Homo sapiens: one gene and its partners. The protein of the gene in region 3 purifies or fractionates together with the protein of the main gene of each other region. This does not show direct contact. Each region holds a gene or a part of one and is shown on either strand. Other genes may lie near its edges. The genes, in order: PFKL, TAF7L, TAF13 and SMARCC2.

Evidence for each region.
Region 1: the proteins of TAF13 (region 3) and PFKL purify together in Homo sapiens (affinity purification with mass spectrometry, with the first as the bait; one large-scale study listed by BioGRID). This does not show direct contact.
Region 2: the proteins of TAF13 (region 3) and TAF7L purify together in Homo sapiens (affinity purification with mass spectrometry; 3 studies listed by BioGRID and IntAct, with this or other methods). This does not show direct contact.
Region 4: the proteins of TAF13 (region 3) and SMARCC2 purify together in Homo sapiens (affinity purification with mass spectrometry, with the first as the bait; one large-scale study listed by BioGRID). This does not show direct contact.

The regions. Positions count from the first base shown.
Region 1 is NC_000021.9:44,314,608-44,322,679, reverse strand, and holds part of PFKL (ATP-dependent 6-phosphofructokinase, liver type), read right to left. Parts: intron 8,036-8,072; exon of another isoform or gene 7,634-8,035; coding exon of another isoform or gene 7,553-7,633; intron 6,437-7,552; coding exon 6,341-6,436; intron 6,249-6,340; coding exon 6,156-6,248; intron 4,211-6,155; coding exon 4,085-4,210; intron 3,330-4,084; coding exon 3,265-3,329; intron 2,597-3,264; coding exon 2,533-2,596; intron 952-2,532; coding exon 805-951; intron 548-804; coding exon 477-547; intron 1-476. UniProt on the Homo sapiens protein: Catalyzes the phosphorylation of D-fructose 6-phosphate to fructose 1,6-bisphosphate by ATP, the first committing step of glycolysis.
Region 2 is NC_000023.11:101,278,605-101,286,676, reverse strand, and holds part of TAF7L (transcription initiation factor TFIID subunit 7-like), read left to right. Parts: intron 1-23; coding exon 24-102; intron 103-3,093; coding exon 3,094-3,227; intron 3,228-4,223; coding exon 4,224-4,350; intron 4,351-4,901; coding exon 4,902-4,957; intron 4,958-7,641; coding exon 7,642-7,683; intron 7,684-8,072. UniProt on the Homo sapiens protein: Probably functions as a spermatogenesis-specific component of the DNA-binding general transcription factor complex TFIID, a multimeric protein complex that plays a central role in mediating promoter responses to various activators and repressors.
Region 3 is NC_000001.11:109,061,432-109,069,503, forward strand, and holds the end of TAF13 (transcription initiation factor TFIID subunit 13), read right to left. Parts: intron 4,802-8,072; coding exon 4,704-4,801; intron 3,263-4,703; coding exon 3,092-3,262; 3' UTR 2,709-3,091; downstream 1-2,708. UniProt on the Homo sapiens protein: The TFIID basal transcription factor complex plays a major role in the initiation of RNA polymerase II (Pol II)-dependent transcription.
Region 4 is NC_000012.12:56,171,926-56,177,629, forward strand, and holds part of SMARCC2 (SWI/SNF complex subunit SMARCC2), read right to left. Parts: intron 2,840-5,704; coding exon 2,726-2,839; intron 1,925-2,725; coding exon 1,771-1,924; intron 1,105-1,770; coding exon 1,012-1,104; intron 780-1,011; coding exon 660-779; intron 566-659; coding exon 503-565; intron 13-502; coding exon 1-12. UniProt on the Homo sapiens protein: Involved in transcriptional activation and repression of select genes by chromatin remodeling (alteration of DNA-nucleosome topology).

The DNA of each region.
Region 1 (8,072 bases), on a different chromosome or scaffold from region 3:
TCGCCCAACACTCAGCGGCAGGAGCGGATGCTTCCTCTGGCCCTTGCAGCCACTCAGTGGCTCAGGACTCAGCAACTTCCCCTGTAGTCACACAGGGGGACTGTGCCCACCCCATGCCCACAGAAGGGTCTCAGGCCCTGGGACAAAAGCCATCAGACAGGCCCATAGCCTCAGCCAGAGTGCTGACAGTGCAGGCTGCCTGGCCTGGCCAGGCAGGGACAGACGCTCGCCAGCTTCCTTGCCACGGAGAGCCCACCATGGGCATGGGGCCGCCAGAGCAGCCTGCCCTACACAGCGGAGCTCAGGCCAGGAAGCCCCAGGCAGGAGGCGTGAAGCCTGCTCTGGGCAGACCACCAGCAGGAAGAGGGGCCGAGCCCAGGGCCCCGGGCTGGGTTCCCCTTGCCGCCCCCACCTGCAGGGCCTGGATACTGCGCCCTGGCCCTCCTGCCCCCAGGTACCCGCAGCAGGCAGCTCACCTCTTGGTCCCCAGCATGGAGCCACCACGCCCCAACCAGCCGGCCACGTCGTGCCAGCCTACTTCTTGCACCTGCCAGGAGGAGATGCAGCTTCAGGGGCCAGCCTGAGCCTCTGGCCAATTCCCCCCAGGGGTGGGCCTGTGCCCGGGGGCCAGCCAGTGTTGGGCATCACGCTGCAGGCAGAGCTGAGTACCCAGGCCCGGGTGGGCACCGACACGCGGACCCAGGTCTCAGCCTCCACCTCCAGCAGCCGGCCTTCCACAGGAAATGCCCCAAGTGTGCACACAGAAGGCCCAAGTCCTCACTTGTTTGCCCCGGCCGGACCCACCTGACCCTTGGCTAGGCCTTCGAAGCCATCGTGCACCACGTATACTGTGTGTCCATGGGAGATGCCGGTCCGCACCGCCGAGCGCACGGCCGCATTCATGCCAGCCGCCGGGGCCCCCACATTCAGGATGGCCAGGGAGAAGTTAGACTTCAGAGAGAAGGGGAGATGAGCGTGAGGCACAGCCGGGGAGGGGACCCCCAACCTGCACAGGAGGTCAGCAGGCCGGCAGGTTCTGGAAAAAGGGGCCAGGCCCTGCCAGCAGCCTGGACGCTGCCCAGCACACCGCCCAACTGCCCTGGGAATACGGTATCTGTTCTAATTCCAGAAGATTCTGGTGAAGACCAAAAGAGACACGGTGCAAGCCTGGCCCCCTGGCACGCAGGCAACAGAGGAGGCAGAAGGGGCGAGCACTGTTGTGAAGCCAGGCTTGCGGGCGGGAACACAGGTCAGTGCCCACACAAGGGGCTGGCAGCGGGCGGGAGGGTGGGGGGTGCACAGCCACGAGTAAGGAAGGGGCCCTGGCTATCCTGTTTTCTAGTAGCCACGTTAAGGGAAGGGAAAAGACATGGAGACAGTCCCATCAGGACTACAGTTAATTTAACCTGATGGACCCAAAACCCCACCACATCCATGTGAATCCAGTGACGGCCGCCACCACCTCCCCTCCACCCACCGTGCTGAGGCTCTGAACCTGGCGTGCACCTGTCACGTGCAGCACATCCCACTTGGCAGCAGCCACACCCAAGGGCTCCATAGCCACATGGCCCCACTGGGTCCTGGTACGAGCCAGCCCTGCTGCCCACAAAGCCAGTCACGCCCCTGCCAGGTTCTGGGTTCGTGGAGACCAGGTTGCCCCACCACGGAGGGTAGAGCCCGCTGACTAGCTCTGGGGATAAGCAGGAGGCTGGAGCAGCAGGGACACCCAAAGATGTCCATGGAAGGGAGGACCAGACTCAGGCTGGGCCACGCTGTCTGCCCCGGCCTGCAGCTCCGGCTGTGGCTCAAGGGGCTTGGGAGCCAGGACCTCACTGGCCGTGACTCTCTCTACAGGACCCTCGTCCCCCAGGACTTTAGAAACAAGCCATTTCATCCTTATTTTGGAGAGATCCCATTTCCTGAGGTTTTCAGCTGTTTGGGAACATTTTATTTTCAGAGTTTCACTCTTGCCGCCCGGGCTGGAGTGCAATGGCACGATCTCGGCTCACTGCACCCTCCACCTCCCAAGTTCAAGCTATTCTCCTGCCTCAGCCTCCTGAGTAGCTGTGATTACAGGCATGTGCCACCACCACGCCCAGCTAATTTTTGTATTTTTAGTAGAGACGGAGTTTCACCATGTTGGCCAGGCTGGTCTCGAACTCCTGACCTCAGGTGAACTGGCCACCTCAGCCTTCCAAAGTGCTGGGATTACAGGTGTGAGCCTGGCCCCGGGGGACATTTTCTACACAATGGCTTCTCCTCTCCTGAGTTAAGCCTGTGGCCTGACTTCATTTCCATCCACCACTGAGAAGCAACAGCCAGCCCTGCAGCCAGGGTCCCAGCACCCGGGACCTGCCAGCCACAGTGGTGCCTGAGCCCAGGCAGAGGTCAGGCCCACCCTCCCAGCTCACAGCTCGGACCCCAGCAGGAGGGAAGGTGGGGGCAGGCAGGCCCAGCCACGGGGCCAGCGTGAAGAGGCTGCAGAATAACTGAGCCCGTTCCTCCCTCTGTGGGCGCCGCTCCCTGCCTCACCTTCTCCTTGGGGGGCTTCTGGTGGGCGAGGAGCTTGTAAATGTTCCAGTTGTTCTCGAAGCTCCTGGAAGGGATTCGGGTCACACCATGCACAGCCCTGCAGCGCCACGGCGTACAGCCACAGCGCAGCCGTGACAGAGCCCAGGAGGCTGGTCACAGGCACACGGCCCGATGGAAGCTCAGCCATGAGGCAGCAGACACCGCGCATGCCAGGCAGGGCACCTTCCACAGAAGGTGCGAGACCCCCAACACAACACGAGGCCACGCCAGCCCGTGCAGCAAAGCACGTGGCCGGCATCCAGCTCAAGGGAGGGTTGGCCACCTTGGTAGCGGGTGGAGGCACGCATGGGAACCCAGACGTCCAATCCAGCCTGACCCGGCCGCCAGGACGCCTGCAGGGGGGTGGTACCCACACCCAACATCTGCCAGCCTTCCCAGCCCCCGCGGGGCCACCCCATGTCCTGGGCTTGTATCCACAGCTTCTCATCCCCTCGCCATGCCCAGATCCCTGTGCACTGGGCCCTGCCCGTGCCACCGCCCAGGGTCTCCTGTGGTACCACACCTCCCAGCCCGCCTCCTGTACCACCCGCAGGCCCCTTCCTCCCTCGATCTTCAGACGCGGTGCCTAGAAGGATGACCCAGGCCAGGCGTGCATAGCGCCACTGCAGCACATGCTGCCTGGCACCGGGACCCAGCCATGTAAGAGTGCAGGGGTCTGCTGAGGGGGCTTACCCACCACGGAGCTGGGTGGCCTCGTCAAACCTCTTGTCATCCATGGCTTTCTGCACTTCCTTGGTCTTAAGGAAGAGAAACAGAACACAGACTATGGAGAGCCTGGCCCGCACACCCATGGCTACTGCCCTGTCTGGTGGGCCTGACGAGGGCAGATCTGGCCGGCATCTCCTGACCCTGGCCCAGGCCTGGCAGCCTCTCCCTAGGAACAGCGGTCACCACCAAGGCCAGCTCTTCTGGGGCTGGCTGAGACCAGGAGGCCCTACCCTGCCCCCAGCTGCCCTCCTCACCTCTCAGCAGCTCCAGCTCCAGGCAGGGCACTCTGCCCCAGTTGCAGGCCTCCAAACCCACCGAGCCAGGGCTGGACCAGCCCCCACACCCGGCCCCCTCGCCTCTGCCTTCCCCGTACCTCCTCTCCTGGGGTCCCTGCTCCAGCCACCCCAGTGTTCCCCATCACCTGCCTGAGCTCCTCCCAGGGCTCTGCTCTGATCACTGGCCCCTCCTCCTCCGTCCCATCGTAACCCCAACTCCCACCACTGCCTACAGAAGCTCAGTGGCCGTGGACCCCTGTGACTTCCCATGCTCACCAGGCTCCCTGCAGCTCCGACACACCTCCTGGGGAACGTCCCAGGTCCCACGTCCCACCCAGGGATGTGCTCACATCCCTCCCCTCCCTGGAGACCTGGGATGCCCTGGGCCAGCCACGAGGCCCTGCCCTCCGGTGCTCACAGTGCTGGGGCCCCCAGAGAGCAGTGGGGCCTGTGAGTGGGGACTGGGGAGAGGGGCCAGGCGGTTCTGATGGGGGGGGCCCAGGGCTTACCATCTGCACGCACTCCATGAGGGGCAGCCGCACTGACTGGTTCCCCGAGAGGGTGACCACGCAGGCCGGCGTGTCAGGCGTGGCTTCCAGCAGCGCCATCACCGCCTCCATGCCCATCTTGCTGCTCTGTGGGGAAGGGTTCAGGCTGGCACACCCACTTGGTCCCTCTACCCCAAGCCACATGCCCATCCTCTGTAGATGTGCAAACCCCAGCTTCCAGAGCCCCCCACGCTGACGGAAGCTTCCAGAACAGGTGGCATCAGAGATGGAAACGTGTCTGACCAGCATTCACGACGGCACACCAGACACCATTTCACAGAGTCCTCGCTGCCCTGCTGGAAGGCCCAGCCTGCACTGCTGGCTGCAGGGTGCCATGCAATGCGACCCACCCACCGTCGCTCGCTGCCATCGCTAGGCGCGCAAGGCAAGGGCGGGAGCCAGGTCCCCAGGGCCCCATCCGCTGCGATGGATCCTCCCGTGGAGGCCCTCATGTCGTGACTTCCCTGGTGTGTGTCCGCACCGGCCAAAGGGCTGGGCAGAGGACACATCCAGGAGCTGCCCCCCAGGGACACACTGCAAAGGCAGGCCCCAGCCCCACCCCGGGAACCGGCCACAGTGGACAAGAAAGCCAGGCCTGCGGTTGCCGTGGCCGTCCCATGACCACCAGTGGCCAGCCCTGTAGAAGCCCAGCAGCTGGACCCCCGGGGCCACAGACAGCCCTCCGTGTTCCACACAGGTTTTTTCATCTTGCAAGTGAGGCACAGGCGGCACCTTATTCTGGGCAGTCTCTCCAGGACGCTGTTTAGGGAGCAGCCTCGGAGACACCCCCCATGCAGGATGAGGCTCCTTGGAAAAGTGCAGGTTACCACTGCACGTGCTAGGGTCCCCTGGCCCCTTCGCAGCACCCAGTGGGAATACGGGCTCAGGGAGCACAAGAATGCTGACGCTCTGGGTGACAGCCGCGGCTAGGGGCGATCAACTGTCCTTTGTTTCACACCCGGCATCAGGCATCCAAGACACTGGCTGGAAAACCCAGCAGCCTGCAGGCTGGGAGTGCATGGCTGGCCCGGTCACAGCAGCGGCATTTCCATCACCCCAGGCTCAGCAGCGGCTGGCTTGCCCTGATGTCCCCGGCCCCTCAAGAGGCTCTTCAGAGTGAGCCTGAGGCCTCACAGAGGGGACAGCAGCTGCCTGGCTAGGTCGGCGGGGCCCCTCTCTGAGGAAGCCTCCCCTCTATAGAGTGGCCCTCGTCCAGCTGTGTGGGTTCCCTGGGAATGCTCGGCTCAGCACACGAGTCACAGGGCCAGGTGCAGTCACAGGGCTGGGCGCAGTCACCTGGTCTCCCTCAGCACAAGTCCCACCTGTCTGACAGTCTCTGGCCCTGCCTGAGAGGGTGACCACCCTCATACACAGGCATTTTGCCTACCATGGTGCCTTCCTGGCCCCAGACCCACTCCATTTGGCTCCAACTTCATTCCCATTTTGCAGAGGACAAAGTGAGACCCAGCGGTGATCAGGACCAAGGACGGCGAGGCCAGGCCAGACCCCGAATGCTCCCTCCCAGCACCAGCCTCCCAGACTGTGACGCCACAGGCGCCATGGGCACCACCCTCTGCCCACCCAGCCCCTCTCCCAGGGCCTGCCCCTGGCCCTGACTGCTGCCACGTTGGGCTGGCAGAGGGTGGGGGTCAGAACAGCCAGGAGGCACAGGCTGGTGGGGGGCCTCCCATGGTCCCCAGGTCTGAGTTCCCTATACCTGCAGGGGAACGGAGAAGCCAGGCCTCAGTCTCCCCCAGGAGGAGCAACAGCTTGAGGGAACACCCACACACACCCACACTGACACACACCCACACACACTGCCACACACACCCACACGGACCAGACACACACAGACACACCCACAAGGACCACGCGTCCCCCACACATACACCCCCACACACAGACACGGACACTCACCCACAGCCACATGGACACAGTGCACGTGCCATGCTCGCGTGCACACTGCCCACACCCACACCCACACACCACGCTTACCCACGCACGTACGCAGGGCAGGGTGATGGCCACTTACCAGGATCCGGTCGAAGGCAGAGGGCGTCCCTCCCCGCTGCACGTGGCCCAGCACAGTTACACGGGTGTCGAAGCCCAGCCTCTGAACCACCAGCTGCAGGACAGTGGGAAGGACCAGCCCTGAGCCCCAGCCCACACGGCCTAGAGGAGCAGGTGCCCAGTGGCCACCCCCAGGCCCACACGCACGTCCTTCACGTAGCTGGACGAGATGGGCTTCCCGTTGCGGTCAATGGCACCCTCAGCGATGATGATGATGTTCAGTCGGGACCCACGGCTCCGAGTCTGGGTCAAAGACACGACAGGGCTCAGCTGCCAGGCAGGGAAACCTGCCCCGGACACAGCCCCCGGGTGCCAGGAGCCCTCCCTGGGGCCACCATTCCCAACCCACATGGGCCAGGGCACAATCCCCACCCAGCAGGAGGAAAGCAGGCCTGGAGCGCGAGGGCAGAGATGAGGCTGGGCCCACTAGGACGCCCCGCCCTCCTGGAGGCGGTGAACAAGAGGGCTCTGCCCGAAAGCCTGGGAAGGGCAGCAGGGGAGGAAGGGGGCCCTCGGGGCTGGGCCCAGCACACACACAGCTGGGGCTGGGCCCTTGTGTCTGGTGAAGCCTTCCAGGCGGGAAGACGCACAGGGCTGCAGCTCCACGGGGCACAGGGCAGAGGGGCCTGCCCGGGCTAGCCTGGGCCAGGTACCTGGGGCCCCTGTGAGCTTCCATCTGCTCATCCTTATAACCAGGGGCCCCGCATCGCTGGCACCAGCCAGGGCTCCCCGGACACCCTGCACCCTGAAGCCACTGTGGGTCCACACTGGTGCACATAGGACACACCATCCCCTCTGCCAGCCTCAGGCTGCTGCCTCAGCACCACACACCAGCCGCGGCCCAGCTCTCTGGGAACTGAAAGAGCTTTTCGGCCGTCCACTTCAATGACCCAGCCAACATTTGTGGGACTCGCTCTGAGCCACAAGCCCCATGTTTGCCCACCACGGGCCACAATGCCTCCTACAGGGACAGGGTTGGAGCAGCTCAGACAGGGCCCGGGTGTGGTGGGAGTGGAGGGCTACCTGGAGGAGGTGGCGCCAGTGCAGGTGAGGTCAGACACCCGGAAGATGGGCTGCAGGTCCAGCAGGAGAGCTGTGCCACCCTCCCTGCCCCAGTGCACCCTGGGTGGTGGGCAAGGCGGGAACCCGCATGTTACAGGGGGAAACAGACTCTCAGTGAGGGCCTGAGCTGCTCACACAGAGCAGGAAGGAACCAGGTGGGCCGACCTTGCATCCAGGCCACTTCCAGGAGGGCCCAATGTGAGTCACAGACATAAGCTAAGGCCAAGGTCACCACTGGAGCCGGAACCCCCGGGAAGTCCCTGCCCTAGGAGAGCAAGCCCCTCATAGGACCCGCACCTTGGGCCAGCCTCGCCTGTTGGGCTCCATCTCCGCCCGGCCCCTAGGCTCCACTGGGGAAGGTTCTAGAAGCCAGGTCATTACCCACGGCCTCTCCCACTGCCCTCGGCAGCACTGTACAGCCACGCGGAGGTGGAACCAGTGTCCACACAGATGGGAGTGACGCTGCCACCTTCACACGGGGACAGGGATACCGTGTCAGTCCCAAACCCACCCTCTGCCCCCAGGGCTGGTTCCAGTGGTCCTGCCTCAGCCTCAGCGCACAGAGGACAGAGCTAGAGCCACGGGGGCCCCTGGCCTTGCCCTGCATGGTCGGGTGTGGGCGAAGGACAGCCTGAATGGCCCGTGCCTCTGGTCCACCATTGAGCCCCACCCCACCAAGGGGCCGACCTGTCCCAGTTGAGGGGTCTCAGGGTCCACAGGGCAGTGTCAGCCTGTTCTAGGCCAGAGCCCCCAACTCCACCCCAAGGGAACCAGAGGGCGGCATTCCAGGCACCCCCACTCCAGACACACCCCTCCC
Region 2 (8,072 bases), on a different chromosome or scaffold from region 3:
TTTTCAATTTACCTCCTTTTTAGGAACATGCTTGTACTGTCAGGAACCTAGCACGTTCTCAAAGTGTCAAGATGAAGGATAAACTAAAAATTGACTTATTGCGTAAGTAGTTAATATCCATTCACTATACATTGAACAATAATTTATTAAGGGATTGCTATGTGCCATACACTGTACTTGGTACTAAGGATGTGAAAAATGATAGAATATGGTCTCTGACTTGATGGACTCATGCTTTAGAGAGGCTTAAGTCCTCTTCTTTTAAGAGGAAAGGAAGTAGGAATATTGCACCTTGAGTTGAGTGATTATCATAGTGTGTTTAAGGAAACTTGGGGGTCAACTGTGGGGTTTTTATACTGCTGGTAGCCTCCCATATATAAACTTTATGATTTCTGAACATCCAAGGGAATGACAAATGGATATGCCATTCTTTGTTTATAAAGGTGACATGTATTTCTTTCTTTCTTTCTTTCTTTCTTTCTTTTTTTTTTTTTTTGAGATGGAGTCTCGCTCTGTCGCCCAGGCTGGAGTGCAGTGGCGCAATCTTGGTTCACTGCAACCTCTACCTCCTGGGTTCAAGTGATTCTTCTGCCTCAGCCTCCCAAGTAGCTGGGATTACAGGCACATGCCACCATGCCCGGCTAAGTTTTGTATTTTTAGTAGAGACGTGGTTTCACCATGTTGGTCAGGCTAGTCTCAAACTCCTGACCTTGTGATCCGCCTGCCTTGGCCTCCCAAAGTGCTGGGATTACAGGCGTGAGCCACCGTGCCTGGCCAGTGACATATATTTTTCTTTTAAATAATATTTGTTATATTGGCAAATTGTACATCCAATAAAGTGGTTAATATCCAAATATATAAGGAACTCAAACAACTCAATAGCAAGAAAACAAATAACCTGATTTTAAAATGGGCAAAGGATCTGAACAGATATTTCTCAAAAGAAGACATACAAGTAGCCAAAAGGTTCATGAAAAAATGCTCAGCATCACTAATCATTAGGGGAATGCAAATTAAAACAACAGCGAGATATCACCTCATACCTGTTAGAATGGCTTTTATTAAAAAAAAAAAAAGAACAATAACAACTGTTAATGAGGATGAGGAGAAAAGGGAAACTTTGTACCCTATTGGTGGTAATGTAAATTAATACAGCCTTTTTTTTTTTTTTTTTTTTTTGAGATGGAGTCTTGCTGTGTCACCCAGGCTGGAGTGCAGTGGCGCGATCTTGGCTCACTGGAACCTCCACCTCCTGGGTTCAAGCAATTCTCCTGCCTCAGCCTTCCGAGTAGCTGGGACTACAGGCATGCGCCACCACACCTGGCTAATTTTTTTGTATTTTTGGTAGAGATGGGGTTTCACCATGTTGACCAGGCTGGTCTTGAACTCCTGACCTCGAGTGATCCACCCACCTCAGCCTCCCAAAGTGCTGGGATTACAGGCGTGAGCTACTGTGCCTGGCCTACAGCCATTATTTTTTTTAAATGGTATGGAGGTTCCTCAGAAAACTAAAAATAGAACAACCATGTGATCCAGCAACCCCACTTCTGTGAATATATTCACAGAAGGAATTGATATCAACATGTTGAAGGCATATCTCTCTGCACTCCCATATTCATTGTAGCATTATTCACAATAGCCAAGATATGGAATCAACCTAAGTGTAAATGTGATACGTATACACAATGCTATACTACTCAGCCTTTTAAAAAGAACAAAATTCTGTCATTTGGGACACCATGGATGAATCTAGAGGCCATTTGCACCAAGAGCATGTGTAAATAAATAAGTAAATAAGTAAATAAATAAATAAATGTTTCCACACAAGTTTATCTGCCTAAAAAACACACAACCAAAAATAAATAAATTTTGCTAGTTTTTTTTTTTAATACAGAGAAGCATATAAAGGAGAAAACAAAAAGTGGCTCATAATCTCACCAGTTAGTTAACACTTACTGACATTTTTTAAAAAAGATAATATAAGTTCATAGTTAGAAAATTCAAATAAAACAGGCTGGGTGTGATGGCTCATGCCTGTAATCCCAGCTCTTTGGGAGGCTGAGGCGGGCGGATCACTTGAGGTCAGGAGTTCCAGACCAGCCTGGCCAACATGGCGAAACCCCGTCTCTACTAAAAATGCAAAAATTAGCCGGGCATGGTGGTGCACACCTGTAATCCTAGCTATTTGGGAGGCTGAGGCATGATAATTGCTTGAACCCAGGGGGCGGAGATTGCAGTGAGCAGAGATTATGCCACTGCACTCCAGCCTGGGTGACAGAGTGAGACTCCTTCTCAAAGAAAAATAAAAAAATCAAATGAAAAAGAAAAGTTCGAAAGGAGAAATAAAACTCTTCTTCCTTATGGTGCCCCAACCTCAATACCACAGATAACTGATACTGTTTCTTGTTACTTCCTTATTGACAAAACTCTTATGCATAATACTAGAATTGAAGCAATCTCTCTATTTTTAGAGTTAATTCACACAAAATGATAAACATTGTTTTGTATCTTTCTTTTTTCACATAATACTAGAAGATTATACCTGAATCCTCTTGTGTCAAAAGACATTTATGTTTGGGACATCTGAGCAGCAATATTCAGAGTTTAGTATATGGCTGTTGTATAGAATTTTATCTTTATGAAGCTAATTAGAGATTTAACTTGAGATTTATTAGCACCATTCTAGGGTCAGTCAACCCTTCCCTCACCCAGCCCTTTGAAAACACACATGTACAATGACACGATTGAATGCTTCTAAAAAAAAAAAAAAAGGAATTGGTTTTAATGAATGGAATTTGCTTTTCAGGATGAGAATGAAACATTTATTACTTCACCTATATTTAGTTCACATCCATTAACAAGAAACTTAGCTACTTTTGCACAAGTGACGTAAACTAGGAAAAAAGAGCTCCATATACTTTCCATTTCTTTTCTTTAGGAAGCTATTAATTGTGTACACAATTCTAGCATTATGAGAGATAGTAGGTTTCTTGGAAAGACTAATCTGTCCCACATAAGTCTTCATTATTCAAACCTTAGGAAGTTTAAGAGTTCACTGGGAAGATATCAACTTTAATCTTTACTTCTCTTCAGCTGATGGGCGCCATGCAGTTGTTGAAGTAGAAGATGTCCCACTAGCTGCTAAGCTGGTTGACTTGCCTTGTGTTATTGAAAGCCTGAGAACGCTTGATAAAAAAACCTTTTATAAAACAGCAGACATTTCTCAGGTATGGACTAGTTTTCTTTACTAGCCTCACATCCTTCAAGGAATTCTTTTCTCTTCCTATTTTTCTTTCTTTCAGTACTCCTTTCCACTTGGTGAATGGCTGCTTGGCATTTCTAATTTCCAGATTGACTGCACAGGAATGAAATGTCATGTTCTCGTTTGGTGTTTGATCCTTAGCTTTCAGTATTGTATTTTGACCAAATAGCCTATAGAGAGTCCCATTTGCCACTTATAGTGACTTTTCATTAATTGAAACATATGAGCTGCTGGGATCTTCTGAACTTTGTATTAAAACAGTATGTTGTTAACTCTGGAGGTTTAAATTGGTTCTTATTCATCATCTCTGCTGTTGATTTCTTATTTCCTCTCTAAATCAAAATGCTGAGATAGGCCAGACACAATGGCTCATGCCTATAATCCCTACACTTTGGGAGGCTGAGGTGGGAGGATCACCTGAGCCCAGGAGTTTGAGACCAACCTGGGCAACATAGTGAGACCTCATCTCTACAAAAACAAGATTAGCCAGGTGTGGTGGCACACACCTGTAGTCCCAGCTATTCTAGAGATTGAGGTGGGAGGATCACTTGAGCCCAGGAGGTCGAGGGTGCAGTGAGCCATGATCACGTACCACTGCACTCCAGCCTGTATGACAGAGCAAGACTTTGTCTAAAAACAAAACAAAAAACCTAAGCTAAGTTCCAAGATCTGTTTCCAATATATTCCCTCTGTAGTGGTAAACACTCTCGTGGAAAAAAAAAAACAAAACAAAGCACCTTCAGAGTTCATATGTAGTGCTGCTGGTGGCTGGTGGTGGGGAGGAGAGGGAGAGAGAGAGACTGCAAAAATGAGAGAATATAAATGTACATTACAAAATACTTGGTTTTCTGGAAATGGCAAGTATCAGTCTCTTCTGTGCATTTCTAGTGGTAAGAATGATTATGATTGCTAACCCAAAATTCGTGGTCATAGTCAACTTCTTTGTCTTTGTTAAATGTAGATGCTTGTGTGCACTGCTGATGGTGATATCCACCTTTCTCCAGAAGAACCAGCTGCCTCTACTGATCCTAATATAGTCAGGAAAAAAGAAAGGGGGAGAGAAGAAAAATGTGTCTGGAAGCATGGCAGTAAGTCACCAGCCCCTTGCTCATTCCTGCTGACTAAAATTTATTTGCTGAATCCTAATTCCTTGTGAAACAGGGACGTCTTACCACACTTAGGTGTTTGGTTCATTAGGTTCTCAGATACTCTTTAAGAGGAGTCACGTCAGCTGGGCGCGGTGGCTCACGCTTGTAATCCCAGCACTTTGGGAGGCCGAGGCGGGTGGATCACCTGAGGTCAGGAGTTCGAGACCAGCTTGGCCAACATGGTGAAACTCTGTCTTTACTAAAAATACAAAAATTAGTTGGGTGTGGTGGCGGGCACCTGTAATCCCAGCTACTCGGGAGGCTGAGGCAGGAGAATCGCTTGAACCTAGGAGGAGGTGGTTGCAGTAAGCTGAGCTCGCACCACTGCACTCCAGCCTGGGCAACAGAGTGGGACTCGATCTCAAAAAAAAAAAAAAAAAAGGAGTGATGTCATGACCCTTTGGTTTATAGCATGATCTTTGTCTTTATCAAATTCAGCTATGTGACTACCATCAGTCATATAACGTTTCACTGTGTTGTATTTATTTTAGTTACGCCACCACTTAAGAATGTCAGAAAGAAAAGGTTCCGGAAAACACAAAAAAAGGTTAGTTACATGCTATTTGTGTGTCTGCCGGGCCGATTAGAAGAGGATCATGGGCCAGAAGAAAAGAGAAAAAGTCAGTTGGGAATTAATTTTTAATTCATTTATATGTTCAATAAACATTTATTGAATGTGAACTAAATGCCAGGCACTGTATGCTAGCAGTAGGGAATATAGCAGTGAATAAAAAGACCTGATCCTTGAGGTTATAGGCTAGTCATTTGGGGTCTGGAAGAATCATACATTTGAAACTTCTGTTAATGCTTTCAGTTTTCTATTGCAAGATCTAGTTTTAAAGTGAACCCATCCAGAACCTGAAAATTGGGAATTGTGGTTATATTCCTAATGTTATTTCAGGCTTGTAGAATCTTGGGCAAACTACAGGAGTATTGTGGCTTGGCTTCTTCTTTTGTTTAAAATTAAACATGTTATTTTGAAATAATTGTAAATTCATATACAGTTGTAAGAAATAAAAGAGAGATATCGTGTACCCTTTCGCCATTTTCCCCATTTTGCAAAACTATAGTACAATACCACAAACAGGTAATTGACATGATTAGAATTCTGCAATCTTATTCCAATTTCTCCAGTTTTACTTGTACTCGTGTATTTTTGTGCATGTGTTTAGTTCTATGCAGTTTTATCCCATGTGTAAGTTCATGTATCTGTCTACACAGTCAAAATACAAAACAGTTTCATCACAAGGATCCCTCATTTTGCTTTTATATAACCATGCCCACTTCCCTTCCACCTCACACCCCAGTCTCTGACACTTGGTAATCACTAATCTGATCTCTATCTCTGTAATTTTGTCATTTCAAAAATTTAATATTAATGGAATTATATAGTATATAACATCAGAGACTAGCTTATTTTTTCATTCAGCATAATTCACTTAAGATCCATATAAGTTTTTGTAGCATCAATAGTTTATTTTTTATTGCTGAGTAGTATTCCATGGTATGAATGTACCACATTACATAACTGTTCTCCCTTTGAAGGACATCTGGGTTGTTTACAGGTTTTGACTATTATAAATAAAGCTGTGAACAGGTTTTTGTGTGAATATAAGTATTCATTTCTTTGGAATAAATGTCCAGGAGTATAATTGCTGGGTCATATGGTAGTCACATGTTTAGTTTTGTAAGAAATGACCTGTTTTCCAGAGTGACTGTACCATTTTATATTCCTGCCAATAATGTATGAATGATCCAGTTTCTCCACCTCCTCACCAGCATTAGGTGTTGTCACTATTTTTCATTTTAGCCATTCTGATAGGTGCATAGTGATCCCATTGTAGTATTAATTTACATTTCCCTGATGGTTAACGGGGTTGAGCATCTCATGTGCCATCTATTCCACTTCAGCGAAATGTCTGCTCATGCCTTTTGCCTATTTTCTAAATTGATTTTTTATTATTGAATTTTGAGAGTTCTTTTTATATTTTAAATACTACCAGTGTTTTATCAGATATGTAGTTTGCAAATATATTCTCCCAGTCTGTAGCTTGTCTTTCCATCCTCTTCGTAGGGTCTTTCAGAGAGCAAAAGTTTTTAGTTTTGATGAAGTACAATATATTGATTTTTTTGAAAACGATCTTGCTTTTTATAGTAAATCTAAGAACTCTTTGCCTAGCCCAGATCCTGAAGATTTTCTCCTGCTTTTTTTTTTTTTTTACATCTTTTTAAGCCTGATGCCCATTTTCGACTTAATTTTTGTAAAAGCTATGAGGTTTAGTTCAAGGTTTTTTTTTTGTTGTTGTTGTTGTTTTGTTTTTGTTTGTTTGTTTGTTTTTGCTTTTCTTGCCAAAGGATGTCTAATTGCTCTCGCACTATTTGTTGAAAAGGCTATTCTTCCTCTGTTGTATTGCTTTTGCACCTTTGTGAAATATCAGTTGGGCTTGGTTTTATGGGTCTGTTTCTGGGTTCTCCATTCTCCTCCACTGATCCATCTGTCAATCCCTCCACCAATATCACAGTGTCGCTATATAATTGGTCCTGAAATTAGAAGGCTGATTGCTCTGACTTTACTTTTCTTTGTCAATATTGTTTAGCCATTCTAGAGTCCATATCTTTATTTATTTATTTATTTATTTATTTTTTGAGATGGAGTCTCGCTCTGTTGCCCAGGCTGGAGTGCAATGGCACGATCTCTGCTCACTGCAGTCTCTGCCTCCCGGGTTCAAGCGACTCTCATGCCTCAGCCTCCCAAGTAGCCAGGATTACAGGCATGGGCCACCATGCCCGGCTAATTTTTGTATTTTTAGTAGAGACGGGTTTCACCATGTTGGCCAGGCTGGTCTCGAACTCCTGACCTCACGTGATCCGCCCGCCTTGGCCTCCCAAAGTGCTGAGATTACAGGCATGAGCCACCACGCCTGGCCAAAAGCCTGTATCTTTTAATATAAATTTTAGAATAAGCTTGTCTATAGCTATAGAAAACCTTGCTAGAATTTTGGCAGGAATTACATTAAACTTGTAGATCAATTTGGGGAGAACTGACATTTTTACTATATTGAGTCTTCCAATCCATGAACACAGTTGCCTTGGCTTTTATACTCTGTAAATCAACATTTATTGAGTGCCTACTAAATGTAAAACTAAGTTAAGGATAGTTGTAGAGCTCTTTAAGCTTTACTGAAATATAGGTATCATAATATAACTTGTTTATTGTGTTTTATTTCATAGGTCCCTGATGTCAAAGAAATGGAAAAAAGCAGCTTTACTGAGGTAGAGCAATCATAATATAACTTCATTTTTACCCTTAATGTGTTTTATTTAATAGCTCATTAGTTTCAAATGAATCAAATAAACCACAGAAGCTACTTTTGAGCCTTCCTTCTCACCTCTAACCCTCATCCTAAACACATACACTGGGTTTGATTCACTAAAAAATGAATTCATTGTTTGATGTTTGATAACTGCTAGAGGAAAAGATACAATTTGGCCAGTGACCCCGTGTATTCTAATCTGCTCTTTTTATTCTGATATTTATTTCAAAAGCCATTCCTTGGGAGCCAGAGCTCACTTTTAACAGCAGTTGTTTGCAATTGCTTATTCCCCATCAAAATCCTAATTTCTATTTGTGGCACAACAAATTGGTTGCTGTGGAGATAATT
Region 3 (8,072 bases):
CCTGTAGTCCCAGCTACTCGGGAGGCTGAGGTGGGAGGATTATTTGAGCACAGGAGGTCGAGGCAGTGAGCAGTGATTGTGCCACTGCACTCCAGCCTGGGTGACAGAGTGAGCAGTTTACTGAAGCCTTGACCTCTCAGGCTCAAGTGATTCTCCCACCTCACCTCCTGAGTAGCTAGGACCACAAGCGGAAACCACTGTGCCTGGCTCTTTTTTTTTTTTTACAGAGATGGGGCTTGCCTAGGCTGGTCTCCAACTCCTGGGCTCAAGCAATCCTCTCGCCTCAGCCTCCCAAGCAGCTGGGACTACAGGCATGCCACCACGCCCGGCTAATTTTTTTGTATTTTTAGTAGAGACAGGGTTTCACCATGTTGGCCAGGCTGGTCTGGAACTCCTGACCTCAAGTGATCCACCTGCCTTGGCCTCCCAAAGTGCTGGGATTACAAGTGTGAGGCACTGTGCCTGGCCTTGATTTTTAGTTGAGATGGGGTCTCTCTATGTTGCCCAGACTGGTCTCCAACTCCTGGGCTCAAGAGATCCTCCTGCCTAGGCCTCCCAAAGTGCTGGGATTATAGGCATGGGCCATGGTGCCCAGTCCTGCTTTTTTTTTTTTTTTTTTTTTTTGATACGGGGTCTCGCTCTGTCCCCCAGGCTGAAGTGCAGTGGCGTGATCTTGGCTCACTGCAAGCTCCGCCTCCCGGGTTCACGCCATTCTCCTGCCTCAGCCTCCCGAGTAGCTGGGACTACAGGCGCCCGCCACCACACCCGGCTAAGTTTTTTTGTATTTTTTAGTAGAGATGGGGTTTCACCGTGTTAGCCAGGATGGTCTCGATCTCCTGACCTCATGATCCACCTGCCTCGGCCTCCCAAAGTGCTGGGATTACAGGCTTGAGCCACCGCGCCCGGCCCAGTCCTGCTTTTTTAAATGAAAAGATTCACCCAGATACTCACTGAAATAAAAAAAATTTTCAGCTAGACTAAGCAGCAAGAATTATCATATTACCAGTAATGGGCATAATATTCTGGGAGGAAAAAAAGTCACAAATCAGTCAGATTCAAGGATCAACCTGTTTAATTGTTCATATTTTATTCCTGTATCAGTAGATTAAGAAAGTAAAATTTTCCCAAGCACTGATTTATAGATCATGTTTATAAGCAGCATACAAAAAGTTAAGTTTCATAAACAATAACATTCAGTGATCTACTTAAATCCAATTGTAATCCTTACTTTAAACTAAGGGCAATAATAATTTAATACATAGAGTAAATACACACAAAACCTGTGTATTCAGAACTACAAACATGGTTTCCATAGCCACGTATGGTTTTAGTCAAGGACACATTTCCACAATGAACAAGTACTTACAAATATGTTAATAAAACACTAACCCAAATGCTTACCCTGCCATCAGCTTTTTAAACAATGCCATTCCTGCTACTGAAAGCATTTATTTTTAGAAGCTTGAATCTGCTCTGGGAAAACGGGTTCTCCTAAAACTTAACAGGATGTTATAAATCCGAAAAGATTTTAAATCAAAAAGCCTTCCAACACAGCATTATTCATGTGAAACTTGCTTTCTTTTTTTTTTTTTTGAGACGGAGTCTCGCTCTGTCGCCCAGGCTGGAGTGCAGTGGTGCGATCTCGGCTCACTGCAAGCTCCGCCTCCCAGGTTTACGCCATTCTCCTGCCTCAGCCTCCCAAGTAGCTGGGACTACAGGCGCCTGCCACCGCGCCCGGCTAATTTTTTGTATTTTTAGTAGAGACGGGGTTTCACCGTGTTAGCCAGGATGGTTTCGATCTCCTGACCTCGTGATCCGCCCGCCTTGGCCTCCCAAAGTGCTGGGATTACAGGCGTGAGCCACCGCGCCCGGCCCGTGAAACTTGCTTTCTTAAAAAATAATAATAACTTGTTATCTGAAGAAAATTAAAAGATTATCTTTTAAGAGAGATAAACATTCTTACAAAAAACTATATTTTCCTCTATCATCTCTTTAAAAGAAATGCAAACCAGTTCATTATCTTTGTTTTTTTGAGAGTCACACTCTATTGCCCAGGCTGGAGTGCAGTGGCGCCATCTCGGCTCACTGCAATCTCTGCCTCCTGGGTTCAAGCAATTCTTCTGCCTCAGCCTCCCAAGTAGCTGGGATTACAGGCACATGCCTCCATGCCTGGCTAATTTTTTAATTTTTAGTAGAGGTGAGGTTTTGCCATGTTGGCCAGGCTGGTCTGGAACTCCTGGCCTCAAGTGATCTGCCCGCCTCAGCCTCCCAAAGTGCTGGGATTACAGGTGTGAGCCACCACGCCCGGCCTAGTTCATTATCTTTAATAATGAACTAGACAATAAACTAATTGTTGTCTAAAAACTTCTGAATACATGAAGTACAAGTCTGAGCTGTCAAGTCAAAAATGCCATTTAGATTTCACATATTAAACAGCTATAGTAGGCCAGGCGCGGTGGCTCACACCTGTAATCCCAGCACTTTGGGAGGCCGAGGCAGGTGGATCACGAGGTCAAGAGATCAAAACCATCCTGGCTACCATGGTGAAACCCCGTCACTATTAAAAATACAAAAAGTTAGCCAGGCGTGGTGGCAGGCGCCTGTACTTCCCAGCTACTCGAGAGGCTGAGGAAGGAGAATCACTTGAACCCGGGAGGTGGAGCCTGCAGTGAGCCAAGATCACGCCACTGCACTCCAGCCTGCCAACATAGTGAGACTCCATCTCAAAAAAAAAAAAAAAAAAAAAAAAAGCTACAGTATAGCTTACAAGGGCATAAACATACCTAACACATTAAATACTACTTTATCCTTTAAATAGTCAAAAGTCAGAACAACGGCATGGTTTGCAAGGTACTTTGACTTATGTGTGGTCATTAAAACCCAGTAAGTAATTCAAGTATGGTAATATAAAGGCAGGCAATTACATGCACCAATATCACCCTAAAATCAAAGGCATAAAAATAAAGGCTGAAAACTTTGTGTTTCTCCATCTTTCATTTACATGGCTAGATATCAGAATCTTACTTTAGAAAATATACAATTATTATATATGGTTTCCCCAGATGGTAATTTTCGGAAACTACAAAAAGTGTCAAGATCCATAATTTGCTTCATCAAATGCTTTTCTAGCTCGTTTCAATTCTTCATTCATAGTAAGCAAGTCTTTAACCCTGGCAAACTTCCTTGGGTCCTTTCGAATCAAGAAGACGATATCTTCAACTTGTACTCGACCTTGTCTTCCAATTGACATTGCCTTGTGAGTCTATTACAAAGAAACATATTACATTTAACTTTTTTAAATCTAATATTTTACTGTTTTAATTTGCATTTATTAATTGCAAGTGAGGTAGAAGATTTTCTCTTATTATTATTATTATGGCTATTCATTTGTGAATTATCTTTCTACTCATGTCCTTTGTCTATTTTCTACTGGATTATTAGCAATGTTCTCCTTTATGCTTCACAGGCACTTTAAAAAAAATCTTAAGGACATGAAAGCTGTCAACTTTATTGTTCCTTTTTTGTTTTTTGATATATGTAGATTTTGTCTTCATTTATATAAAATAATTTTATAATTTTGTGTACCCACCCATTTCATTTATGCTTTGTGTCCTCCTCTATCTTAATACCCAATAAATATTGGTGGGTTTTCTAAAAATCAAATAACTCTATCTCATCCTGTCATTATATACTCACCTGTGCAAAATCAAAGACCTATCACAGCATTATTTCTAATGATTAAAAAATAGAAGCTAAATACTTAATAATACGGCATTGAGCCAGACACAGTGGCTCATGCCTGTAATCCAGCACTTTGGGAGGCTGAGGGGGTAGATTGCTTGAACCCAGCAGTTCAAGACCAACCTGGGCAACATAGTGAGACCCTGTCTCTACAAAAAATTCAAAAATCAGCAAAGCATGGTGGCATGTGCCTGTAGTCCCAGGTATTTGGGAGGCTGAGGTGGGAGGACCACTTGAGTCCGGAAGGTCTCAGCTGCAGTGAGCAATGATCATGCCACTGCACTCCAGCCTGGGCAACAGAGTGAGATCCTGTCACACACACAGACACACACACACAAAAAATTGCGTATCTTTAAATACTGGAAAAGGAGGGGAAAAAAAAAAACCTATGTTGGATAATGGTATTATGGATAATATTTTTATTTTATTCAAGGATTTTATAATTATGTCCTTATAAAAAATGCAAGAGGCTGGGCGCGTTGGCTCACGCTTGTAATCCCAGCACTTTGGGAGGCCGAGGCTGGCGGATCACCTGAGGTTGGGAGTTTGAGACCAGCCTGACCAACATGGAGAAACCCTGTCTCTACTAAAAATACAAAATTAGCTGGGTGTGGTGATGCATGCCTGTAATCCCAGCTCCTCGGAGGCTGAGGCAGGAGAATCCCTTGAATCCGGGAGACGGAGGTTGCAGTGAGCCAAGATCGTGCCATTGCACTCCAGTCTGGGCAACAAGAACGAAACTCCATCTCAAAAAAAAAAAAAAACAAAAGGAAGAAGGGGGGATAGAATATACATGTATAACCTCCATCCTCAATGATAAATAGTAACCAATAACTTCTGCAAACAAGCACTCAAATGGATAGCTTATTTCAAAGGGATGCCATAAGTTCTAGTCTTACCTAAAGTTTAATATTTCAAATCTATTCTTCAATTAACTAAGACCAGTTAGGAAAGAATCTTACCATTTCAGTGATAAACTCTATGACAAGATCTTCAAGAATATCCACTGACTCAGTATAAGGATTCTGGTCATCCCCAAAGCCATACATCATACATCGCACTGTAAAAGAACAATCACTTACTTTTGTTTACTTTTACAGATTTAACAATTTGATACTTTAAAAAAATAAAGTAGAAATGAACCAAGTTATAGATAATATTGGTATGAAAACATATTTACATCGTATTTGTTATCTCCAAGTATGGATTCTTGTGTAAAAGGTTTAAGAACAGTCTGATGACCAACTGTTCCCACGTAGCCTCCAGCAAAACTCTTCCTTCCTCCCACCTACTGAACCCTAAGGTAAACAGTCTTTTCCTAATCTCTAGCATCTACTTACCAGTCCCTGCCCCCAGCAGAACACCTTTAAGTAGGAAACTCTGGCAAAGGACAGGACAGACAGCAACAGCTTAGCCTTTTTTGGAGGTGGTTTTTGTGTGTGGGCATGGCAGTGGGGCGTTGGAAAAACGGCAGACTCTTTACTGATATTACCATAGGGGAAAAGACATGAGAGACAGTTCTCCAAATACTTTTTTTGTTTGTTTGTTTGTTTGTTTTTCTTGAGACAGAGTCTCGCTCTGTCGCCCAAGCTGGAGTGCAGTGGCACCATCTTGGCTCACTGCAAGCTCCATCGCCTCCTGGGTTCACACCATTCTCCTGCCTCAGCCTCCCGAGTAGCTGGGACTACAGGCACCCACCACCACGCCCGGCTAATTTTTTGTATTTTTAGTAGAGAAGGGGTTTCACTGTGTTAGCCAGGATGGTCTCGATGATCTGACCTGGTGATCTGCGTGCCTCAGCCTCCCAAAGTGCTGGGATTACAGGCGTGAGCCACCGCGCCCAGCCCCAAATCTGTTCTTATAGGAAGAAACAGGGTACTCAAAATGAGAAAGCAGAGGGCTTACTACAAGGAATTTTGACATTTCCTAGATCAATACAACTGCAGCAAAGCCCTTTCAGGCTTCATCTGAAGAAACCATAGGAAATGCAAAGGATAAGTCTAGGTCGGGTGCAGTGGCCCACGCCTGTAAACCCAGCACTTTGGGAGGCCCAGGCAAGTAGACTGCTTGAGCTCAGGAGTTTGAGACAAGCCTGGGCAACATGGCGAAACCCTGTCTCTACATAAAAAACAAAAATTAGCTGGGCGTAGGCCTGGATGGTGGCTCACGCCTGTAATCCCAGCACTTCAGGAGGCTGAGGCAGATCACTTGAGGCCAGAAGTTTGAGATCAGCCTGGCCAACAAGGTGAAAACCTGTTTCTACTAAAAAAAAAAAAAAAACACAAAAGTCAGCTGGGGGTGTTGGCACATGCCTATAATCCCAGCTACTCGGGAGGCTGAGGCATGAGAATCGCTTGAATCCAGGAGGCAGAGGTTGCAGTGAGCTGAGAATGCGCCACTGCACTCCAGCCTGGGTGACAGAGGGAGGCTGTGTCTCAAAAATAATAATAATAATAAGAGAGACTGTGTCTCAAAAATAATAAGAGAGAAGTCTAATACAGACAAATAAAAATAACTGCCAAAAGATAAAACATATATAGCCCTTATTATATGCCAGGTACTGTCTTAAGTCCTTTACATATATAACTCATTTAATCCTCACAATGATCCTTTAAGGTAGAAACTATTGATTATCCCCATTCTATAGATGAGAAAATTAAAGCACTGCAGTAACTGATTTACCCAAGGTCACAAAGCTAGTAAGAGATGGAACCTGAGTTTGAACCCAGCTGATCTGGTTCGCGTCTTTACTCATACCCACAACAGCATCGCACTTGTTGGTAGTTGTAGTTTAGGGCAGACAGGATCCGTGTGAATTCTTTTTTTTGCTCTCCTTTTTTGAGACAGTCTTGGCTCTGTCGCCCAGGCTGGAGTGGTGTTGCAGTACAGCTTGCTGCAGCCTCAACCTCCCTGGCTCACGTGAGCAGCTGAGACTACAGACACATGCCACTATGCCTGGCTAATATGTGGGGTTTTTTTTGAAACAGAAGTGTCACTGTGTCACCCAGGGTGGAGTGCAATGGCACGATCTCAACTCACTGCAACCTCCACCTCCCGGATTCAAGAGATTCTCAAACTTTAGCCTCCAAGTAGCTGGGATTACAGCCATGCGCTACCACACCCAGCTAATTTTTTTGTATTTTTTAGTAGAGTCAGGGTTTTGCCACGTTGCCCAGATAGTCTTGAATTCCTGGCCTCAAGTGATCTGCCTGCCTTGGCCTCCCAAATTATTGGGATTACAGGCCTAAGCTACCACACCCAGCCATTTAAAATTTTTTCTAGAGACAGGGGTCTTGCTATGTTGCCTAGGCAGTTTTTGAACTGGTTTCTAACTATTTATTTATTTTTATTTTTTCGTAGAGACAGGGTCCCACCTTGTTGCCCAGGCTGGTCTTGAACTCCTGGACTCAAGTAATCCTCCTGCCTTGGCCTCCCAAAGTGCTAGGATTACAGGTGTGAGCCACCACACCCAGCTGAGATCCACAGAGGTTCTTATCCTATCGCCTATAAACTCCCAGTCCAGAGACAAGCTTTAAGAAGTCCTTGAAGGCCAGCGCGGTGGTTCACGCCTATAATTCCAGCACTTTGGGAGGCCAAGGTGGGCGGATCACCTGAGGTCGGGAGTTTGAGACCAGCCTGACCAACATGGTGAAACCCCGTCTCTACTAAAAATACAAAAATTAGGGGGGCGTGGTGGCACGCACCTGTAATCCCAGCTATTTGGGAGGCTGAGGCAGGAGAATAGCTTGAACCCAGGAGGCAGAGGTTGCGGAGAGCTGAGATCATGCCAATGCATTCCAACCTGGGCGAAAGAGGGAGACTCTGCCTCAAAAAATAAAAAAAGAAGTCCTTGAGACTACCCTGAAATCATACGGAAAAATTTTATACATTATCTGTACATGGGCATTTTTCTGGGAATAATTATAACTTTTATCAGATTATCAAAGGGGTATATGTAAATGGTAAGAAATGCTGTCAAATGCTGGAAGTGTTCTGTATCTTGATCTTAGTAGTGATTACAAGTGTGTGAGTGTGTGTGTGTGTGTGTGCGCACATGTATACAGTTGTCCCTTAGTATCCTTGGGAGCTTGGTTCCAGGACCTCCCGTGGATACCAAAATCTGCAGATGCTCAAATCCCAGATATAAAATGGCATAGTATTTGCATATAAGCTAAATACATCCTATGTATATTTTAAATCATCTCTAGGTTACTTACAATACCTAATACAATGTAAATGCTATGTAAATAGTTGTTATACTATACTGTTTAGGGAATAGTGACAAGGAAAAAAGTCTATACATATTCAATAGAGGCACAGTTTTTTTTTCT
Region 4 (5,704 bases), on a different chromosome or scaffold from region 3:
CATTTCCAGTGCCTGGTGGTAGTGGTGGAGACATAACTCCGCTTACTTAGCCACTTTTCTCGAAGGCTGACTCCCCCCATCCTACTAAGGGCAGCTGGTTTCAAAGTTCTCTATGTTCTGGTATTTGTGTACTCTGCTAGGTCCAAGGGGGATCTTGAAGTAGCACTAAGAAAGGATATGAAGTTAATGAAATGGCCCAAATCCCCAGCCTGGAGCTGGTCCTGAAGCTCACTGGAGCCTTGACCTCCTAGGCTCAAGCAATCCTCCCACTTAGCCTCCTGAGTAGCTGGGACCACAGGTGTGTGCCACCACACCTGGCTAATTTTTAAAATTTTTCGTAGAGACGGAGTCTCACTATGTTGCCCAGGTTCATCTCGAACTCCTGGACTCAAGTGATCCTCCTGCCTTGGCCTCCCAAAGTGCTGGGATTACAGGCGTGAGCCTCTACACGGAGCCCACTTCTGTTTTCAGAGAAAAACTCTCTTTTCTTTGCCCCAATTACCTCCAGGAGAAGCAGGGTTTCCTGTTCTGTCCACTCACGAGTGGCACTGGCTGCAGCCTTGCTCTGCAGGGGAAACACAGGCAGGTGAGAAGAAAGGAGCCTGTGACCTCTGAGGAGCGAACATTCTCTACCCCTAGAGTCGGCCCGCACCTCCTACCTTGGAGGGAACATTCTTTTTTGTGTACATGTCTGTGCGCAGCCCAAAGTTTTGCATGTCTGTTGGTTTCTCTTTGCCTTTGTCAGGAAAGTTGAGCATTTGTTGGGAAGCAGAGGTCTGCTATTTGTGGAGGGAAAGAAACAGGTGAGTACAAGTGACCACCGGGAGCCAGGGGCTGACAGAGAGAAAAAACAGACAGAAGGAGCTTCTTTCCCAAAGCCAGGGACACCCCTGGGTGGGACTTCCTCCCTTACTGCTGTAGTTCCTCTGCTCTCATGTCTCTTCTTCCCGGGCAGGGGCCCCCCAATAAAGGGGAAAATGAGCAGCCCAGCAGGGTCTGCACCCCACCTACCAGCTCTGGCTTGCCCTTAGCCGTCTCTGGCACCAGGTCATCCAGCTCTTTGCCCTTTCGCCCAGCCTTGGTATCAGCATCAACCTGGCGGCCCTGGGGGACAGAGCTTGGCGTCATGGAGGCTGGGCAGGAAATGACCAGGCCAAGGCCCTGGAGGCCTCAAGACCATATGCTGGGCGGCCCACAAGCTCTGGGGGCACTCATGCCACTGTTCCATGTTCCCTTCATGATTAATAAGACATGTCGTTGGCATGATATCCATACATATTCACATTATCTTTATAGGTTCTCTTAGGAGCTGGACAATTAGGTTCTAATCCTAGATTTGGTACTCTGTGACCTTGGGCAAGCCACATAACCTTCTTCCTAATTTTTGTAATGGATGAAGTGGAAATGGAAAAAAAAATGAAGATGATAATTATGAGGCAAAAATGAAAAAATGTGGCAAAGATGACAAAGTTTAAAAATTTCATGCAAGTTAATTTTAAGCCATTTTTCTCTATTGACTCCCCTACATTAGCCTGTCTACTCCTTGAGTAAAAGGATAATCTCTTCTCCCTCAGCAATTACAGCCTTAGGTACAAAGGCTGAGAGAGGATGCTAAACACATGGGGCTGATTCCCGTGACCCTTTGCATCCCATGGAAAAGGAAGAAGCCTCAAAACACTCCTGAACCATTACCCTAAAAACCAGAAAAAGAAAAGTTCAAAGAAGCCCAATCTTCCCAACCCGCCCCATCCCCATAGCACCTCACCCTACCTGAGGTGTCTTGGGCTGCAGAGGCACCAGCCCTGATGGTGTGTCAGCCAAGACATGGAAGTGAGAGGTAGGCGGAGGCCCCATTGGGGTTGGTCGACTCTCAGCATCCACCTGGTAGTTAATAAGACCCCACTGTTCTAGGAAGGCATGGACCCTGTGCAGAGAGAGGCAGAGACAGGGTCACACGGATAGCCAGAAAGGTGCACGAGGAAGAGGAAAAGTGGGGGGTAGAAGGGGCATAAACCCCCTCCCCACCCAACCCCGGCCTTTTCCTCTGTTCATTGTACTCCTTAAGAAATCTCACCTACTCCAGTTGTTCATTTATCACCTAAATGCCAGTGACACCCAAGTCTACATCTTCAGCCTGGGCCAATCTCTATATCTACCTACCTACCGAACATTTCTTCCTGAATAGCTAGTAAAACTGAACCAGTTTCTTTCTTTTTTTCCCTAAGAGAGACTGAAGTGCAGTGGTGTGATCACCGCTCACTGCAGCCTCCACCTCCAGGGCTCAGGGGATCCTCCCACCTCAGCCTCCTGAGTCACTAAGACCACAGGCACGTGCCACCATGCCTAGCTAATTTTTTTGCATTTTCTCTAGAGATGGGGTTTTGCCATTTTGTCCAGGCTGGTCTCGAACTTCTGGGCTCCAGCAATCCTCCCACCTTGGTCTCCCAAAATGTTTGGATTATAGGCATGAGCCACCACACCTGGCCTGAACCAGTATCTTTCAATTACAGACATGCTCCTTCTTTGTCCTATATTCTACACTTCAGAGAATGCCATTGCTAATCCCTCAAGTCATTCATTCCCCAAACCTGTACTTCACCTTTCTCTAGAGGTGCTTTTTTCTGTCTGCTCCTCTGTGTTCCTTGCTGGCATCTCTACTGTTGCCAAAACACATCCATAGGCAGGCATCCTCATGTACCCCCTTCCCCTCAGCCACAAGACCCACCTCATGATGGCACAGACATCACCCGCTAGGTTTCGGCGGCAGGCGGTAGAGGTAAGATACTCTTGGGGGTTCAGTCGGTAAGTGTCAATCATAAAGTTTCGATAGGCCAGGTAGCTTAGAAGAAAGAGAGAGAGAAACAAGAAGAAGAAAAATAAATGTTTGTTAAAGGGCTAAAGGAAAAAATGGTAAGAGAGCTAATGACTTCTCCTGCATGATAAAGATGGAAAAAAGTAGATTATTTGACTCTACATGCTGAGTGCCTGCTATGTGCTAGATGAAAGGGTTTCAAATATGTCTTACTTTTCCTTGATGGGGTTTTCTTTAAATGAATTATCTCCTTGGCTATACTTAGGGATATTTCATACAATTTTTTTTTTTGAGATGGAGTTTCCCTCTTGTTGCCCAGGCTGGAATGCAATGGCATGATCTTGGCTCATGGCAACTTCCGCCTCCTGGGTTCAAGAGATTCTCCTGCCTCAGCCTCCTCAGTAGCTCTGATTACAGGCATGTGCCACCACGGCCGGCTAATTTTGTATTTTTAGTAGAGACAGGGTTTCTCCATGTTGGTCAGGCTGGTCTCAAACTCCTGACCTCAGGTGAGCCTCCTGCCTCAGCCTCCCAAAGTGCTGGGATTACAGGCATGAGCCACTGCACCTAGCCATTTTATACAATTTTTAAACAAGGAATTAGAAGTTAAGAAAATACTCATTTCCAAACTCAGATGTTAAAAGGAAGTCCTTATTCATGCATATAGCTAGTCAGCATACCACGGTAAAAAACATATGTTTTGAAGTTGAAAAGATCTAAGTTCAAATCCCAGTTCTACCATGAGGACCTTGGCAATTTACTTCGAATTTTTAAACCTCAGTTTCCTCATTTGTAAAATGGAATGTCTGTTGAGAGGTCTATAAAGTACTAGTATAGTGCCTGGCGCATTGTAGGGGCTCAAAAAAATGGCAGCTATCATGTGGTACAGTGTAAAGTTTCAGATCATGGGCCAGATTAAAGGATTCAGATCCTGGTTTTATTTACTAGCTCTGTGACTTTATGCAGGTGACTTGACTCCTCTATACCCTATCTGTCAACTGAAGATGATATCTACCTCTAAGGTTGACGTAAAGATTAAATTACTCAATGTAGGTTGGACATTTAGTATAGTGCCTGGGAGATACTAAGCTCTCAATAGATGCAGGCAATTATCATCATTTACTATTTTTTTTTTTCTGAGATGGAGTTTCACTCTTGTTGCCCAGGCTGGAGTACAATGATGAGATCTTGGCTCACTGCAACCTCCACCTCCCGGGCTCAAGTGATTCTCCTGCCTCAGCCTCCCAAGTAGCTGGGATTACAGGTGCGTGCCTCCACACCCAGCTAATTTTTGTATTTTTAGTAGAGACGGGGTTTCACCATGTTGGCCTGGCTGGTCTCGAACTCCTGACCTCGTGATCTGCCCGCCTGGGCCTCCCAAAGTGCTGGAATTACAGGCGTGAGCCACCATGCCCAGCCATCATTTACTATTTTATACCAAGAGTTCAGTTCCTACTCCAACCCTGCCTGCATGTCATGTTGAATTCATTTCACCTGATCACTACTTTCTTTTCACACATACTGCTTTCTCCAGGAAGAGAAGGAAGAGAGAACCATAGCAAGCTATGAAGAAAAAACACGGAGGGACCCCCAGAGAGGGGAAGCTGTGGAATAGCTGGGAAGAAAACTTGTTCAGTTCTCAGTCTCACCCACCTCATCAATGTGGTTATCTTGAAGTATTCCTAACCAAAGAAGACTGCCATGTCTTATCCAAAGCCAAGCAGGTTTGGCCTGAGGCAAAATCTTTTTTTTTTTCTTGAGACGGAGTCTTGCTCTGTCGCCCAGGCTGGAGTGCAGTGGCGCAATCTCGGCTCACTGCAAGCTCTGTCTCCCAGGTTCATGCCATTCTCCTGCCTCAGCCTCCCAAGTAGCTGGAACTACAGGCGCCTGCCACCACGCCCAGCTAATTTTTTTTTTTTTTGAGACGGAGTCTCGCTCTGTCACCCCGGCTGGAGTGCAGTGGCGTGATCTCGGCTCACTGCAACCTCTGCCTCTCAGGTTCAAGTGATTCTCCTGCCTCAGCCTCCAGACTAGCTGGGACTACAGATGCATGCCACCACGCCCGGCTAATTTTTTTTGTTTTTGTTTTTTTGTTTTTTTTGAGACGGAGTTTCACTCTTGTTGCCCAGGCTGGAGTGCAATGGCGTAATCTCGGCTCACTGCAACCTCCGCCTCCCGGGTTCAAGCGATTCTCCTGCCTCAGCCTCCCTAGTAGTTGGGATTACAGGCACGTGCCACCACGCCCAGCTAGTTTTGTATTTTTAGTAGAGACGGGGTTTCTCCATGTTGGTCAGGCTGAGCTCGAACTCCTGACCTCGGGTGATCCGCCCGCCTCAGCCTCCCGAATTGCTGGGATTACAGGCATGAGCCACCGCGCCTGGTCTTTTTAGTAGAGATGGGGTTTCATCATGTTAGCCAGCATGGTCGCGATCTCCTGACCTTGTGATCCGCCCGCCTCGGCCTCCCAAAGTGCTGGGATTACAGGCGTGAGCCACCACACCCAGCCTTGTTCATTAATTTTTTTAGATACGGGGTCTTGCCGTGTCAGCCAGGCTGGAGAGCAGTGGTGTGATCATGGCTCACTGCAGCCTCAAACTCCTGGGCTCAAGCAATCTTCCCATTTCAGCTTCCGAAGTAGCTGGGACCACAGGTATGCCCCACCAGGCCCAGCTAATTTTTTTTCACTTCTTTAGAGATGGGAGTCTTGCTATGTTGCTCATGCTATTCTTGAACTCCTGGCCTCAAGGAATCCTTCTGTCTCAGTGTCCCAAGTAGCTGGGATGATTTACAGTCGTGAGCCACCGTGGCTCCTACACTTCTTTCCCAGTGAGCCCTCTCCATCCCTTAATTTATATAAACTGGTCTTCTATTAGTTCCTTCTCTTGTTTTTCT